2 linked regions of the Homo sapiens genome follow. The protein of the gene in region 2 interacts with the protein of the main gene of each other region in a pairwise test. Each region holds a gene or a part of one and is shown on either strand. Other genes may lie near its edges.

Evidence for each region. Proteins that work in one complex are often made in the same cells at the same time.
Region 1: the proteins of RAB11FIP2 (region 2) and RAB11B interact in binary tests that used the Homo sapiens proteins (3 or more experiments, as listed by UniProt).

What each region holds. Positions count from the first base shown.
Region 1 is NC_000019.10:8,393,262-8,400,880, forward strand, and holds part of RAB11B (ras-related protein Rab-11B), read left to right. Parts: intron 1-6,601; coding exon 6,602-6,797; intron 6,798-7,619. UniProt on the Homo sapiens protein: The small GTPases Rab are key regulators of intracellular membrane trafficking, from the formation of transport vesicles to their fusion with membranes.
Region 2 is NC_000010.11:118,036,574-118,044,192, forward strand, and holds part of RAB11FIP2 (rab11 family-interacting protein 2), read right to left. Parts: intron 3,993-7,619; coding exon 3,550-3,992; intron 2,868-3,549; coding exon 2,399-2,867; intron 1-2,398. UniProt on the Homo sapiens protein: A Rab11 effector binding preferentially phosphatidylinositol 3,4,5-trisphosphate (PtdInsP3) and phosphatidic acid (PA) and acting in the regulation of the transport of vesicles from the endosomal recycling compartment (ERC) to the plasma membrane.

The sequences.
Region 1 (7,619 bases), on a different chromosome or scaffold from region 2:
GTACTCCATGGTTGCAGCTGTGTCCCCAAGGGCCACTGAGGTCCTCTCAGAGCCCTTCCCCTACCCTAGAGGCCCTGGCCAATCAGGGCTCACCTGGCCCTGGAGGACATGGGTCGTGGGGGAAACGGGCCGCAGCTGCCCCAGGCCCTGTCCTCTGGGTCTTGTCCACCCCTCCCCTGCCCAAGGACAAGGTGGCCCCTGTCCCCAGGGAAGGGGCCTGCCTGGTGCTTCCCTTTCTGTGCTGAGGCTCCTGAGGCAGCTCCCAGCCCTCAAGCCTGGGCAGACCTCACAGTGGGCCTGCTGTTCCAGTTGCTGTTTGGGGACCCAAACATACCATCTTCCCCATTTAGAATGGGGGTCCCTCCAGTGCCCTGGCTCTGTACACCTCCCCATAGAAGAGCTGAGACAAGAGTGGCCCCCAGTGCCGGTCCCTGGGGCCTAGGATGCTTAGGACCAGCTTCCAGGGGAGGGATGGGGGCACTGCTTGGCTCCGCCAGGCTCTGCCGGAATGGGGGCACCATTCCCCTGAAGAGTCTCTCAGTCTGCCTGAGCATTAGGGTCTGGGCCCCCAGGGCCACCACACTGTCATGGGGCAGGCCAGGGCACCTAGGACTTCTCAGAGGTGCCAGTTCTTTGTTTTTGCCAACCGGGCTTGCCTGCTCTGTCAGCCAAGTGGCGTGTCTGGGGTAGGGGGGTCGCTTCCCAGCCAGTGAAGCCACCAACTTCTGTGGAAATGCTCGGAGCTGTGTCCTCAAGGGCTCTTTATTTCCCCAAGACAACAGATTGCTTGTGTCCTAGACAATGAAGTTTTCATCCCCAGCCTGCATCCTGGACCAGCCCGCCACTGCCCCGCTGGCCACCTCTCTGCATCGGGCACCCAGTGCCAGGGACTGGTTGGGCAGCTCAGCCTCTTTGCCATTCACCTGTTTTGTCACCCAGACTGGAGTGCAGTGGCTTAGTGTCAGCTCACTGCAACCTCCGCCTCCTGGGTTCAAATGATTCTCCTGCCTCAGCCTCCTGAGTAGCTGGGATTACAGGTGCCTACCACCATGCCCACCTATTTTTTGTATTTTTAGTAGAGACGGGGTTTCGCCATGTTGACAGGCTGGTCTCGAACTCCTGAGCTCAAGTGATCCACCCGCCTTGGCCTCCCAAAGTGCTGGGATTACAGGCGTGAGCCACTGCACCTGGCCTGTCATTGATCTGTTCAGTGGCCATTTGGCCTTTGCTCTGACTTGGTCACTCTGGGTTGAGTGTCCCCAGCTGTTCAGGGAGAATGATAATATTTACATCTGTCCCTGGGGCAGCCCTGAGAATGTGGACAGCTGAGGCCTGCAAAGCACTGGGGACCCAGCCTGGCCAAAGTGCTTGAGGGCAAAACTGATGGGGCTGGGTGCCATGGCTCACGCCTGGAATCCTAGTACTTTGGAAGGCCGAGGTGGGTGAATCACTTGAAGTCAGGAGTTTGAGACAGCCTGGCCAACATGGCAAAACCCCACCTCTACTAAAAATACAAAAATTATCTGGGCGTCGTGGTGCACGCCTATAATCCCGGCTACTCGGGAGGCTGAGGCAGGAGGATCTCTTGAACTCAGGAGGCGGAGAGTACAGTGAGCTGAGATTGTGTCAGTGCACTCCAGCCTGGGCGAGGGAGATTCCATCTCAATACAAACAAACAAAAACAAACAAACTGATGGGGCTGAGGAGCCACTAAGGCTGTACAGCTGGGGCAAGGCTGGAATGGTGTGAAGGTGTCGGGAATGCCTGGGCAGGGCCCGAGTTTCCTGTCTTATTTCCTGAGGACGTGAGAACTGAGCAGACCTCCCTGGCCTTGGCCAGGCTCCCGTAGCTGCCGTGGAAAGGAGGTTAAGGTTGGTGGTGTAGATGGGGGCCCTCACAGTGAGTCCATCTTGGCCCCCAGTGGCCTGGGAGCCGATTCTCATCCCTACTGGCTTGGTTGGGAGGTGCTGGGCCACACGCCTACATTCACTCCACCTCTTTCCATCTTTCTTTTTTTTTTTTTTTTTTTTGAGATGGAGTCTCGCTGTGTCGCCCAGCTTGGAGTGCAGTGGCACGATCCCGGCTCACTGCAACCTCCGCCTCCCAGGTTCAAATGATTCTCTTGCCTCAGCCTCCACCACCACACCCGGCTAATTTTTGTATTTTTCATAGAGACGGGGTTTCACCATGTTAGTCAGGTTGGTCTCAAACTCCTGACCTCAAATGATCCGCCTGCCTCGGCCTCCCCAAGTGCTGGGATTACAGGATTACAGGCATGAGCCACTGTACCCGGCCATCTTTCTGTCTTTCTCTGAAGTCCACTTGGTAGCCCTGTGCGGGGCACCCATGGTGACGTGAGAGAATGCCAGCCCCGTTGTCTTAGGTCTTTCACGCCAGGCCAAGCAGTGGTCTTTGGGGAGAGGAGAGGTCTGAGCCGAGGGGTCTTGAAGGATGAGTAGGAGTTTGCTGGCCGCCCCAGGGGGACAGGCTGCCCTATGCGGTGGGAGCTGGGGTGCCCAGAGCCTCAATGCCCACCCCATAAGGCAGAACCACGACTCCCGAGCCACGTGCTGGGGTTTGGGGTAGGACAGTGAGTGTGGCAGTGAGTTGCGAAGGAAGAACTTGGACTGTGGATGCAGAAGACCTGGGTTCAAATCCTGCCTGGCTCACTTCCCAGGCGGTGGCTCCAGACAAGTCACTTGGGGAGCACCGTTGGGAGGTGAGGGCGAGCCCACAAACATGCATAGCTTCAGGGTCCTGCTCTGCCCCGCACCCCGTTCCCCATCCAAGCCTCAGTTTCCTCATCTGTAAAAATGGGCTACAGGAGGCTTCTGCGAAGTAACGCACATCAAGAGCTTTGTTAGCACAAGCTCATCGAATATTCTCCTTGTTCTTGTTATTCTTGGCTTCCAAGCAGCCAACCAGAGCGGGTACCAGGTGGGGTTGTAGGGGCTGCCTGATCCTGCCCTCCTCACCTGTGGCCCAAGGGTGGTGACCTGGCATCCTCTAGGTATGGGGCAGGCGGCATGCGTGGGAGGCTCTGCCAGCCTTTTTGGCATTTTGTTTGTTCACTTGACAGACATTTTCTTGGGTGTTTATTGTGTGCCAAGCACTGTGCCAGGACCTGATTCCTGCCCTTGGGGCAGACTGGCAAAAGATAAATGCCACCTGACAGGTGAGAGAGTGGCAAGAGTGACGGAGGAAGAACTGGGTCCGGGAGCAGGGTAATTCGGAGAGTAGAGTTTTAGTAGCATAGCAGGGAGGGCCTTCTTGGCCAAGTGGCATTTAAGGGGCCACACGAAGGGGATGAGGGAGGGAGCCAGGTGTGTGCCTGGAGAAGAGCGTTTCTGGCAGCAGGAGCAACCCGTGCAAAGGCCCTGAGGCAGGATCGCACCTGGCGTGTTGGGGGAACAGCATGGAGGCCTGTGTGGCTGGAGCAGAGTGAGCCGGGGGGGGGGCGGGAGGGAGGAGGGGAGGGCCCTGTGGGCAGCGGGGAGGACTGTGGCTTTTCCCCTGCGGAAGGTGGGGGCCACGGAGGGTTGTCTGCAGAGGAGGGAGGGAGGTGCCCTGGCTCGGCACTCACGGGCGCTCTCTGGTGGCTGCTGCAGGAGGACAGCGTTTTGGTTGGTGATGAGCGTGAACACAGGGACCGCACAGACAATACCTTCCAGGGTCTGAGAGTCTGGAATGGAATCGCCCAGGGAGACATGGTGGGGTGCACCCCTCGTCCTCCCTTCTCTTGGATCTGTTTCGGATGTGCTGAAGGATTGATTCTGAGATGCGAGAGAAAGGAAGGAGTCGAGAATGACTCCAGGTTTCTGGCATGAGTGCCTGGTAGGACCAAGCCAAAGTTAACCAAGATAAGGAGGGTAGGTGAGCGGTGGGTGAGCAGGCTTAGGGAGTGATCGGGAGCTTGGCTCTGCTCTTCTGGGTATGAGGGGCCTGGGGCCCCTGAGGAGACATGAAGGAGACAATGGGCACGCCAGTCTGGGCTTCTAGGGAGAGAGGTAATATAGGAGTTACCAGCCCATGGCTGGTATTTACAGCCATGAGCCTGGATGGGGTCACCTGGGGACTGGGTGTGGACAGAGATGCCTGTCCTGAGGCTCCCTGAGGTTCGAAGGTAGAGTGGGAGACTGAGTGGGAGTGACTGTGAGGAGAGGAGTCGGGGTGTGGAGCCCCTGCAGGCAGGGAAGGAGGGAGAGCTGGCTGGGTGCCTGCTGCACAGGCCCGGGGGAGTGGGGGTAGCTGAGGCTGACACTGACTGTGGGGGCGAAAGCGTGCTTGGTTTGAGTTCTAGGACTGGGGGACAGGAGGTGGAGTGAGTGAGTGTAGATGATACCTTCCAGTGCCCGAGGCAGGAAGTTGGGTCAGGAGAGAATGTTTTCTAGAGGGAAAATTCCAAACGTGTAGGTACAGCCCCACAGTGTGGCCAGGGGAAGGGCAGAGGAGGGCTGCCTGGTGGGCTCCAGGGCCTGCTCCCTCAATGTAGCAGGGGTCCCGAGTGGGGCCAGCGGACCTCTGGGTCAGCCAGGGCTCAGCCTGGCTGCCAGCACCTCCCCGAGCTCAGGAGGAACAGCCATACCCATCTCTTCCCAGACAAGGAAGCCTCATCCTCAGTGGATGCCCCCTAACTCCCTGGGACCAGGGATGACCAAGCCACTGAGCCAACCCACCCTCAGGTGCCGGGGCCCAAGGCCCACACTTGGGGGTCCACGGGGCTTCTGGCTGGGGCGTCTGGTTGGCTGTATTCAAGTGCACACACACACACTGATCTTCCCCACATGGTATGTTCTGGGTCTGGGGACAGCTCACCCAGACCCCACCCCAGAGCCTGGGGCGGCTGGGCCCATAGGGACAGTGCTTCCATGGCTGGGACAGGAAACAGTTTACAAGGCAGCTCACCCCTGGCCTGACCAGCAGGCACCTGCTCTGCTCAGGGAAAGTGTTCCTGATGCTCCTTGGCCAGCATGAGACAGGCCTGCTGCACACCCCGTGTCGACTGGGCTCAGGCCCCCGTCCCTGGGTGCTGTTGCCCACAAACCCTCATCTCTGTTCTGTCCACGCTGCGCTGACTCCTTTCTGGGCCAGGGTTTGCATCTTGGCAAGCTGCTCTGCTGTGCACCCCCCTCCTGGGACAATGCATACCTGTGTTGGAGCCTTGTGAGGAGCTGTGCACACACGTGGACTGCCACACGGACTGCCCCTTGAATGAGGACTTAGCCTTGGCTGGAGCTCCCTGCAGCTCAGCAGGGGACCTGACCCTGGGGACAGGGGTGGTGGGAGGTGGCTGCAGGCTCTTTCCTCCGGGCTGCGTCCTCAGGGCACATTCCTGTTTCCCACTCAGCCATCTGTGCCGAAGCTGGATGTGGGTTTGCTGCACCAGGAGAGGTGGGGGTTGAGGTGGGAGTAGCTCCTCATGTCCTGTCACTTACATACCTGGAGCAGTGACCCTTCCCATGCCCTGACCAGAAACCACAACAACCGTGACAGCTGCCTACTCGTGTCCCTTCCTGTGCGATGCCTGCTCTTTTCGTGGGGGGAGACAGAATCTCTGTTGCCTAGGCTGGAGTGCAGTGATTCGATCTCGGCTCACTGCAGCCTCCACCTCCTGGGCTCAAGCGATTCTCCTGCCTCAGCCTCCTGAGTAGCTGGGGCTACAGTAGCCACCACGCCCAGCTAATTATTATTATTATTATTTTTTTTTTTGAGATGGAGTCTCGCTCTGTCACCCAGGCTGGAGTACGGTGGCGTGATCTCGGCTCACTGCAAGCTCCGCCTCCCGGATTCACGCCATTCTCCTGCCTCAGCCTCCCAAGTAGCTGGGGCTACAGGCGCCCGCTACCACACCCAGCTAATTTTATTGTATTTTTAGTGGAGATGGGGTTTCACCACGTTAGCCAGGATGGTCTCGATCTCCTGACCTCGTGATCCACCCGCCTCGGCCTCCCAAAGTGCTGGGATTACAGGTGTGAGCCACCGCGCCCGGGTACTTTTTGTATTTTTTATAGAGACGGGATTTCACCATGTTGGCCAGGCTGGTCTCGAACTCCCGACCTCAAGTGATCCGCCTGGCTCATCCTCTCAAAGCATTGAGATTACAGGCGGGAGCCACCGTGCCTGGCCATGCCTGCTCTTACTTCCTCCTCCTGTGACTGCCTTCCTGTTCACACATTTGGAAAAAGTAGTCCAGAGGTGAAGTGACTTGCCCAAGGTCACCCCGCTCAGGAGCCTTCTCAAGCCGTGTCTGGCTGCCCAGCCACCAGGCTGCAGGTGGAGGCTCAGGGTTGATGGATCTCAAGCTGCTCTGCCTGCCTGGCTGCCTGGGTCCCCTTGCCCCAGCTGGGACAGCCCTGCTCTGAGGACCAGACACAGGCAGGTGTTGTGCTATCCGCAGTGGCTGTTTCTGGAAGGCAGGAGCCTGCCTTCACTTCTGCACCACTTAGCACAGTGCCTGCAGGCCCTGGGCTCCAGGCATCTCTCGACTCCTCCACACCGTTGGCAGCCGCGTTGGTGCAGCACCCAGGGAACCGGCGGGAAGGTTGTGGGGGCAGTCGTGGGTGGAGTGTGGGGATTCACAGAACCTCGCCTTCCCGCCCAGTGGTGCTCATCGGGGACTCAGGCGTGGGCAAGAGCAACCTGCTGTCGCGCTTCACCCGCAACGAGTTCAACCTGGAGAGCAAGAGCACCATCGGCGTGGAGTTCGCCACCCGCAGCATCCAGGTGGACGGCAAGACCATCAAGGCGCAGATCTGGGACACCGCTGGCCAGGAGCGCTACCGCGCCATCACCTCCGCGTGCGTGTCGGCAGCCTGGGCAGGGACGCTGAGATTCGGGGGCGTGGGCTTGCAGCGCGTGGGCTTGGAAGGATGTGTAGGAGTTGGGCAGGAGAAGGGGAGAGTGTGCTCCCAAGACCAGGGAGTGAGGCTGGAAGAACGCTTTAGCCATGCGCCGTGGGACCCTCAGGCTGACCAGCGCCCAGCCTTCGCCACACCAGGGTATCTCTGGGTACCAAGTGCAGTGAGGACCTAGCTCAGGCCACTCCGCCTTGCCGCTGCCCCTGCCCAGCCAGCATCCCAGCCTTCCTCCTCCCTCAGCTTCCCTCCTCACTGGTGCCCACACCTGGTCCCACACGCCTCCTGTCCTCCCACCTGGGCCTGGCCTCCATTCCCTGCAAAGGCTTCCCAGCCATCAGGACCCACTCAGCTGCCTTTTTCTGGACCCCTCCCAAGCCCCCCAGCCATTCCCACCACCGTCTTGAGATCCTCTGGGCTCCCTCCCATCTCCTTCATCCCTCAGGTACATCTGTCTCTCTGTCACCTCCTCTTGTTTTTTTTTTTTTGAGATGGAGTTTCACTCTTGTCGCCCAGGCTGGAGTGCGATGGCACGATCTCGGCTCACTGCAACCTCCGCCTCCTGGGTTCAAGCGATTCTCCTGCCTCAGCCTCCCAAGTAGCTGGGATTATAGGCACATGCCGCCATACCAGGCTAATTTTGTATTTTTAGTAGAGATGGGGTTTCTCCACATTGGTCAGGCTGGTCTCAAACTCCCGCCCTCAGGTGATCCACCCTCTCGGCTTCCCAAAGTGCTGAGATTACAGGTGGCGTGAGCCACCGTG
Region 2 (7,619 bases):
TATATTCAATTCTTCTTTTTTATAAGATTAACTAGAACTACCCCTTTACTGCAAATGTTTTACATTTACCACACGGATGGTTTGTGATGCAAAAAGAATAACTTCCTAGGAATCCACAAATGTTCTGTCCTCATATCTGGCATCTCATAAATATGAAGAAGAGAAAGTCATAAAATGAAAAACAACTATTTTTTTTTACATACTTGCAATCATTTCATACATCATAAAACAGCTCTAATTTTGCTAGAAACAGCCAATAATAATAAAGTAACTGAAAACAAAGCCTGGATGTGTCAAAATGCCACAGGCACTTTTAAAACCCGTAACAGCCCACATAAACAACTCAAATACAGGGCAATTAAAGATTTGCAAATACTCAATAAGCTTTTTTTTCCATATGCACCCATAATGTAAAAACATTATTTTCCTATCATTTTCCATTTTCTTGCTTTTCTTCTGACTCTAAAATTAGCTAAATTGCCCCATCTCCAAGTTACCTCAGACAGTTGTTTCCAACAACCTTCTGTAAAAAAAAGTTTAGTAAAGAGGGAAAGAAGCAAATATATTTCTATTTACCCATATAAGATTTAATGTAATATGTGAAGTACAGTATGTAAAATACCAAAATATTTTTGAATGGCATATCAAAACTATAAACTCTTCAATAAAATATTGATACCATATGATAAAAATGTTATTCTTCTGGAGTATGGTTTATAAACAGAACAGAATACTCTTTTAAACCATGGCAAATATCCATTTATAGGTAAAAGAAAACAAAAAAAGTACACTTCACTTTGAAAATTTAAATGCAAATTTTTAAAATATCATGGAAGATACATAAGAGAGGTGAGAGGGCACAGCCTAAAAGTGATTGATTGTTAATACTCTATTTGCTGTTTCTAGTGGGACAAAACAAAGCACTGTTTTTTAGTAAAATATAACATGACGATACATCAAACATAATTGTAGTCACCATTTATGGATTCCCTATTTGGGGCCTGGCTTTGTATTATGTACTTTCATTTATCCTCACCGAATCCTATCAAGTGGGATTATTTTCCTTGTTTCAAAGATGGAGATACTGAGGTTTATGGAGGTCATAGCACTTCTAAGCCAGTATTCCCATTCAGGTCTGTACACTCTATAATATTGTCTTGAAGAAAATCTTCTATTACGTGGTAAACACTCTAGCATGCTCTTCCAAGATAATTACAGTCATCTCTCAGTATCTGAGAGAGATTGGTTCCAGGACTCCAAGGATACCAAAATCCAGGGATATTCAAGTCCCCTATACAAAATGGTACAGTATTTGCACATATACGCAACCTCCCATATATTTTAAATTATCTCTAGATTACTTATAATACCTAATACAATGTAAACCAATGTAAACAGTTGTTACACTGTACTGTTTTTTAAATCTGCATTATTTTTTCATTACTATATTGTTATTTCTTATTTATTTTTTTAAATATTTTCACTCCATGGTTGATTGAATCCAAAAATGCAGAACCTGCAAATATGGGGGGCCAACTATACTTAAGATGGGAATAAATTTATCTTTTCTTTGCTTGAGGTTTCCTTAATCAGCTATTTCATCGTTTACTTCTGTAAAATCCATAACCATATTTAAATTTATTCCTTAGCATATCTACACTTATATCTATATATGTAGATATAAATTTATATAGATATAGATTTAAATTTAGATATATAGATATAATTTAGATATACTAAGGAATAAGAAAAGCACCATTATATATATAACTGAAAACTCAAAGTTGGAAAATCCAATCTTTCTCATGAGTGATTATTTCTGACTATAAATCATCATATAGATCCCTTGGGTATACCTACAGAACCCATGAGGGTTACTGAATTCCAATAACAAGCATTCTCAAATAAAAACCACTTCTAAATAGCCATTTAATAAGGATAATTAACATCTATTAGGAAAGCCATTAATACTGAAGCTGGCGTTTTTTAAAGAATAGCACATGGGCTGCTGTTGGTCCTTTCCAGGTAGCCCATGAACGAATCCCTAGAAACATTATCACCTAAATTTCTGGCTTGAACTAACACCCACTGGCAATTCACTCTCGCCATGTCTCATCACAAGCCATGTTGTTTTCTAAGTTTTGGTGAATTTCTGGCTCACATAAGTGGAAGTAGACCAGGATAGAGAATAAGAGTCTTTTATCTTCTTAAGATAAAAAAGTTCAGTTCCAAAAATATATGCAACATTGCCTGGCTCTATAATTTAATTATACAAATAAAAATGTTTTTCAAATAAAATAAAATGACTTGAAAATATTCTAGCATTTAAAAGAAATATTTGATACCTTCAAGTACAAGATTTTCCCAAATAGTAGAACTTCCCCCATATTAAGCTTACCTTGAAGATGGCATTATATTTGAAGCCCTGAATTTTGCTGTAAATGGATTGGTTGACTCATAATCAAAATAGTCCTGGCGATTTTCACTAAATGCATTAGGTGATTTCAAGTCACAAGGGCTATCAGATCCCCCATTGTTAAGTTTATCAGATCTTCTGCTATCTTTTTTTCCAGTCACTCTTTCAAACAGGCTAACTTTCTCCCTTTTCTCTCTTTTATTTTCTTTTCTTATTTCAATTGGTTTTGAAAATAAATTCATGCTGCTGTCCCATGTTTCGCTGCTTTCTTCAAATGGATTTTTCTTCCTTGGCAGTGTTGCAAATTTTTGGGGTAATGAAGCAGTCACATTTGTAAATGGGTCATTTTGTCTTCCGAAACACAATTCACCTTCATCCACAATGCTGTCAGGTTGGTTCATTTTAGAAGTATCAAAGCTTAATGTTCTTCTGTGTGGAGATTTGAGACTTCCTACAAACAATTTTGTAGTTAGTACATAATCAGTGACACATTACATCACACTATTTGACACAGTCTGTGTGCATTCTGCTGCTTTTAGAATGAGAGCAATTAGCCACTTAAATGTATTAACCTTCAAAAAATCAAGGAAACAATCTTAAAATGCTAAGGTGTAGCAGTCTGAAGCATCGAGGCTGATAACAACTAGCATATTGCTAGACCATTAGTAATGTATTCAGCTCACAATCATATAAACTATGATGTCAAAACTAGAGGTTCTGGTTGGCATGATAATGTTAAAAATTCTCAGAGACTTTTTCATTAGCATTAAATTTACTTTCTTACTTCTGAACATAAAAGTTTTCTTCTAAGGACTTTATGATGAAATGGAACATTCATTTATGCTCAGGGTTTTGAGATAGCAGAAACAGCAGTAAAACAGGCAGCCAAGCCATAAAAGGAAACTGGCACTCATTTTATTATCATCTAATAATATAAATACAAATGCAGACAAGCTCTGCCTTCAAGGAACTTACCAATTTGAGGTATAGTAGGTACTCAATATTTGATGAATGACAAAATTTGGAAAATACTACAAAGCAACTGCTATTTTGATTTACTAAATTTAGAAATTAAACTTTAAAAACTAAAAGGGTAGTTCAGACCAATGAGTACACAAGAATGTGACACTTACCACTTTCTGGAACTGTTCCAAAGGAATCTAACTGGTGTCCGAGAAGATGTGTTTGACCTATGGTGCCAGCCTTCAGTTTCTCAGAAGACATATGGGACCCAGATAAATCAGACATTGAATGCGCTGACGAGAGTCGCTGAGGACCCAAGAGAAAAGGCTTTTTTGGTTTGGATTTCATCTGTATTTCACCACTTGAAAATTCACTATTGGCATCGGGCATGTGAGTACTTGGAATGATTGCAGAAGACGTATCAGAAAATGTTCCATCATTTTTTCTACCCTTCATCTTATCTTTTAACTTTGCAAAAGGAGATCTGGTTTTGTCCTTCATTGATAAGTCAAACATACTTGCGGTCATATTGTTCCTCATAAACTGAATATTGACCTTTATCTCACCCCTGTTTTTGATTCGTTTTCCTTGTTTGGATTCTAATCTAAACCACCTTAAAGAGAAGAAAAAAAAATTGGCTGTAACACATAATAGAGAGAGGATACTGAGTTCTGTTACATACAAATAGCCTTTTAGGTAAAGTAACTATACATCAAGGCAACCTAAGCTCTGAATAAGAATCTGTCAGCCACAGTATTTCGGGCTTTACTTATTATTTAGTTTAAAAAACTGATCATTGTCTCTGTGATGTAACATATACTGAAGGAATGAATAGGTCTTTGGCAAGTTTGAAAATGTTTTCAGATAATCTTTTCTTTTGTAATTTGAAAATCACTCATCATCAAAAATTCTTATCAATGCTAGAAGTTTTCCATATGGGATTAAGTGTTGCTCACGGCCTAAGGACATTTTTTTTTAACATTAAAAGACATTGAGGCAGAGATTTTGAAAGAATTCACCAATACAAATTATTTTTGAGCATTATAAAATGAATCTCATGACATTTTAATACAATAATAAATACCTGGCCCCATCCCAAAATATTACTTACGTAAAAGTAGCAAAAGAATTTTGTTAACATTGGAGATCATTGCATATAGCTTGCTAATCATTAAAACAGCATATGATGTCATTTAGATTGACATAAAATGAATCAAAGCCTACTCCTGAATAAAATATGCAAAAAATAAGTAAAATGCAAGAAGTGACAAAAAATAAATCTTGTGAAGTTTTCAAAAGGAAAAAAAAAAACCTAAAATGCTTCTTGTTTGAATCTATTTGCTTCATTTTACTATTGCTACTGTGACAATACCAAATAAAAATTATTTTGAAAATGAAGCCAAATCTTACGTTTTAGTCCCTTCAATGTATGGCACTATCTGTATTTAAATGATATACAAGAAGCAATATTTTGGTTTTATAGTATTTTTATCCATGAGAAATTCTCCAGTTGGCCATGTCACAAGTGGTCATTCTATGGGAAAACAGCCAAAAAAAACTACAAAATCAAGCCTGAAAGAGTTTCTACAATGTTTTCACATAACTTAGCAATGAGGCATAATATCCATTCCTGCACACAGGTTATTATTTAAATATAGCTCTAATCGAGTGTAACAAATTTTCTTAGCTACAAAGGAACTCTGATCTAATTTTACATTAGTTCTTTCTCTCATTGTTACCAACTGGATATGCCAAGAGAAGATTACATTTACTGTATATCAAGTTGAAATACTGGCACATGATATAAATACCAGCTACATCTTTGCACGTAACATGGAAGAAAAATATTTTCTTGATTAACTAAATTGGAGCTATTCAATCAATTCAGATATAGTTGCATCAAAACTAGCCATTTCTTAGAATATCAATATTTTAAAATACTATTAGCCTGAGACCTTAAACTGAGAAAATCCCTTATATAAGGCAAATGGTAAAATCTGAAGAAACAGGGGCTAGAAATAAGAAATGACAGCGATTTCTGTGAAATAGACAACCTTAAATAACATACAATTGAGCACTCAAAAAGCCTGGAAATGAAGCAGATTATATACCCAGTTAACTCAAAGTTTTGGAAAACAGAGCTATTTTCAATAGGGAGAGAAACACATCTGACGAACAGTAGCTCAGAAATACTCTGTAGTACCTCAGGCTTTATAGAATGTAGGTGAATATACTTTGCAAAAAATGTACCAAAAATTTGCAAACAAAAACGAGCACGTATGTAACAAATCAAAGCAAATATGAGTAAAAAAAAATTAATTACCCCCAAAATGGAAGGGGGTGGGGGTAGTGGAAATTCACAGACTTTTAGAGATAAGACCAATAAATCATCTACTTTAACATCTTTATTTCATAGATGAGGAAATTGAGGCACAAGGAATGATATGTAACTTCCCAATGTCAGATTAAAGTCAATAAAGAAAAAAATCTAAAGTTGATGAATAACATCTGCAGGAAAATAGAAGCTCTTTCTTATTTGATGAACCACATATGTTAATAAGGTTAACCACATGGCTGGCACATACTGCAGGACACTGTATTTAATAAGGAGACATGAGAGCTGAAGAGAAAGACAATGCAAATTTTCTACTGCTAGAGTATAAGCTCCTGGAAGGCAGTCTGCCTTGCATTAAATGTTTATTCAATTTTTATTTCTAGAACTATATTCTTACAAGTAAGCTACAACTGTGTGTGTGTGTGTATGTGTTTACATTGTCTTGTTTTTTTAGTAGGAAACTGTAAAGACCTATGTAAACCTGAATAAAGCAAATCAGTATTTGACTACAAACTGTAAATACACTATAATGTCCATTCCCCACCCCCCAAAAAAAACTGCAAAGAACTTTTACAAATATACTCATTGAAAATGTAGCAATGACAAATAACTTTAGTTGCTTTGTTTTGAAAATGACATAATAGGGAAGTCTTAATGAGATCTTCAAGAATCATTTCAGAGATAGCATTTGTTTTTCCAGTCTTCAGAAAGATAAAACGAAGACACAGCATTTGGAGCTTACTGGATTAGCTGACTTTTTTTCACCTCTGGAGTACTGGATTTAAACTGTACATGGCCTCTGTTCAATTTTTAGTGGGCACAGGTCCATGTTCAAAAACCAGCACACATATGGGAACTATTCCCAAGCAATTGGTGCTGTGTGGTCAGAAATGGGACAAAATTGGCAGTAAGGGTGCCAGAGGCCAGGACACAGGTGCACCGCTGAGACACACACACGTCCTAAAATCTGCATATGTCTGAGTCACATCTAACTCTACAGACTCTGGTTGTTATTACTTTTCATGAGCATTAAAAAAAAAAGTCAACATCACCTACTTCTATTGTAAAAAATCAATGGATATTACACAACAGCATCAATGATTTTAACATTCTATTACTAAACATTGTATTATTTCTTTAAATCTCATGCCAGAACCAACCCAGACATCCTCTAAAGGAGGAGATACAGAAGTTCTCTTCCCAGGCCCACTCAAAGGGTTCTGGCTCAGACCCTTTTTCCCCATTCCTTAAGAGAGAAAAAAGACATATATTTTCAAGGTAAGAAAATAAGTAAAGTAATAATTTTAGTTGTCATACTTCTTTATCTATCATGACACAACTGGAAGACAAGCTGTAAATATATGTCTTCAGTGTCAAAATGTAAAAAGTGTCACACCCAGCAGTTTCATAGGACATCTAAGTTAGCTGGTAGTCCTCATCACTCGAAACAGTTTTCTAAAAAGCACTTGGGAATATGCTGAAAAAGTTTAGCAATGTGCAGAATATTAAATATCTTCCTTGAAATATACCGGCGGCTCAAGTCTGTCTCTTACTGGGCCACAGGTACAGCTGTGCTAGAAAAGGAAGCTATTAAATATATTAAAAAACTAGAAATATTACCAATAAAGATATCTCATCAAATACATGGTCCCCATTTATCCACAAATAAAATGTTAAGGGTTTAGCAATATATGAAAATCACTTTGAATGCAATAACATCACAAACCCTGTTGATAACATTTAAAAGCATTTTACCCCTAAAGTTCTAATCAATTTTATATAATAGCCAGTAGAGAATTTCTATAAGGAGAGACCATAATATTAGAGTATTGCTCACACCAAATGTATTGTAACTGTGATGTTGCCCAGGACTAGGAGTAAAACAAGAAGAAATTGTAAAAGGTT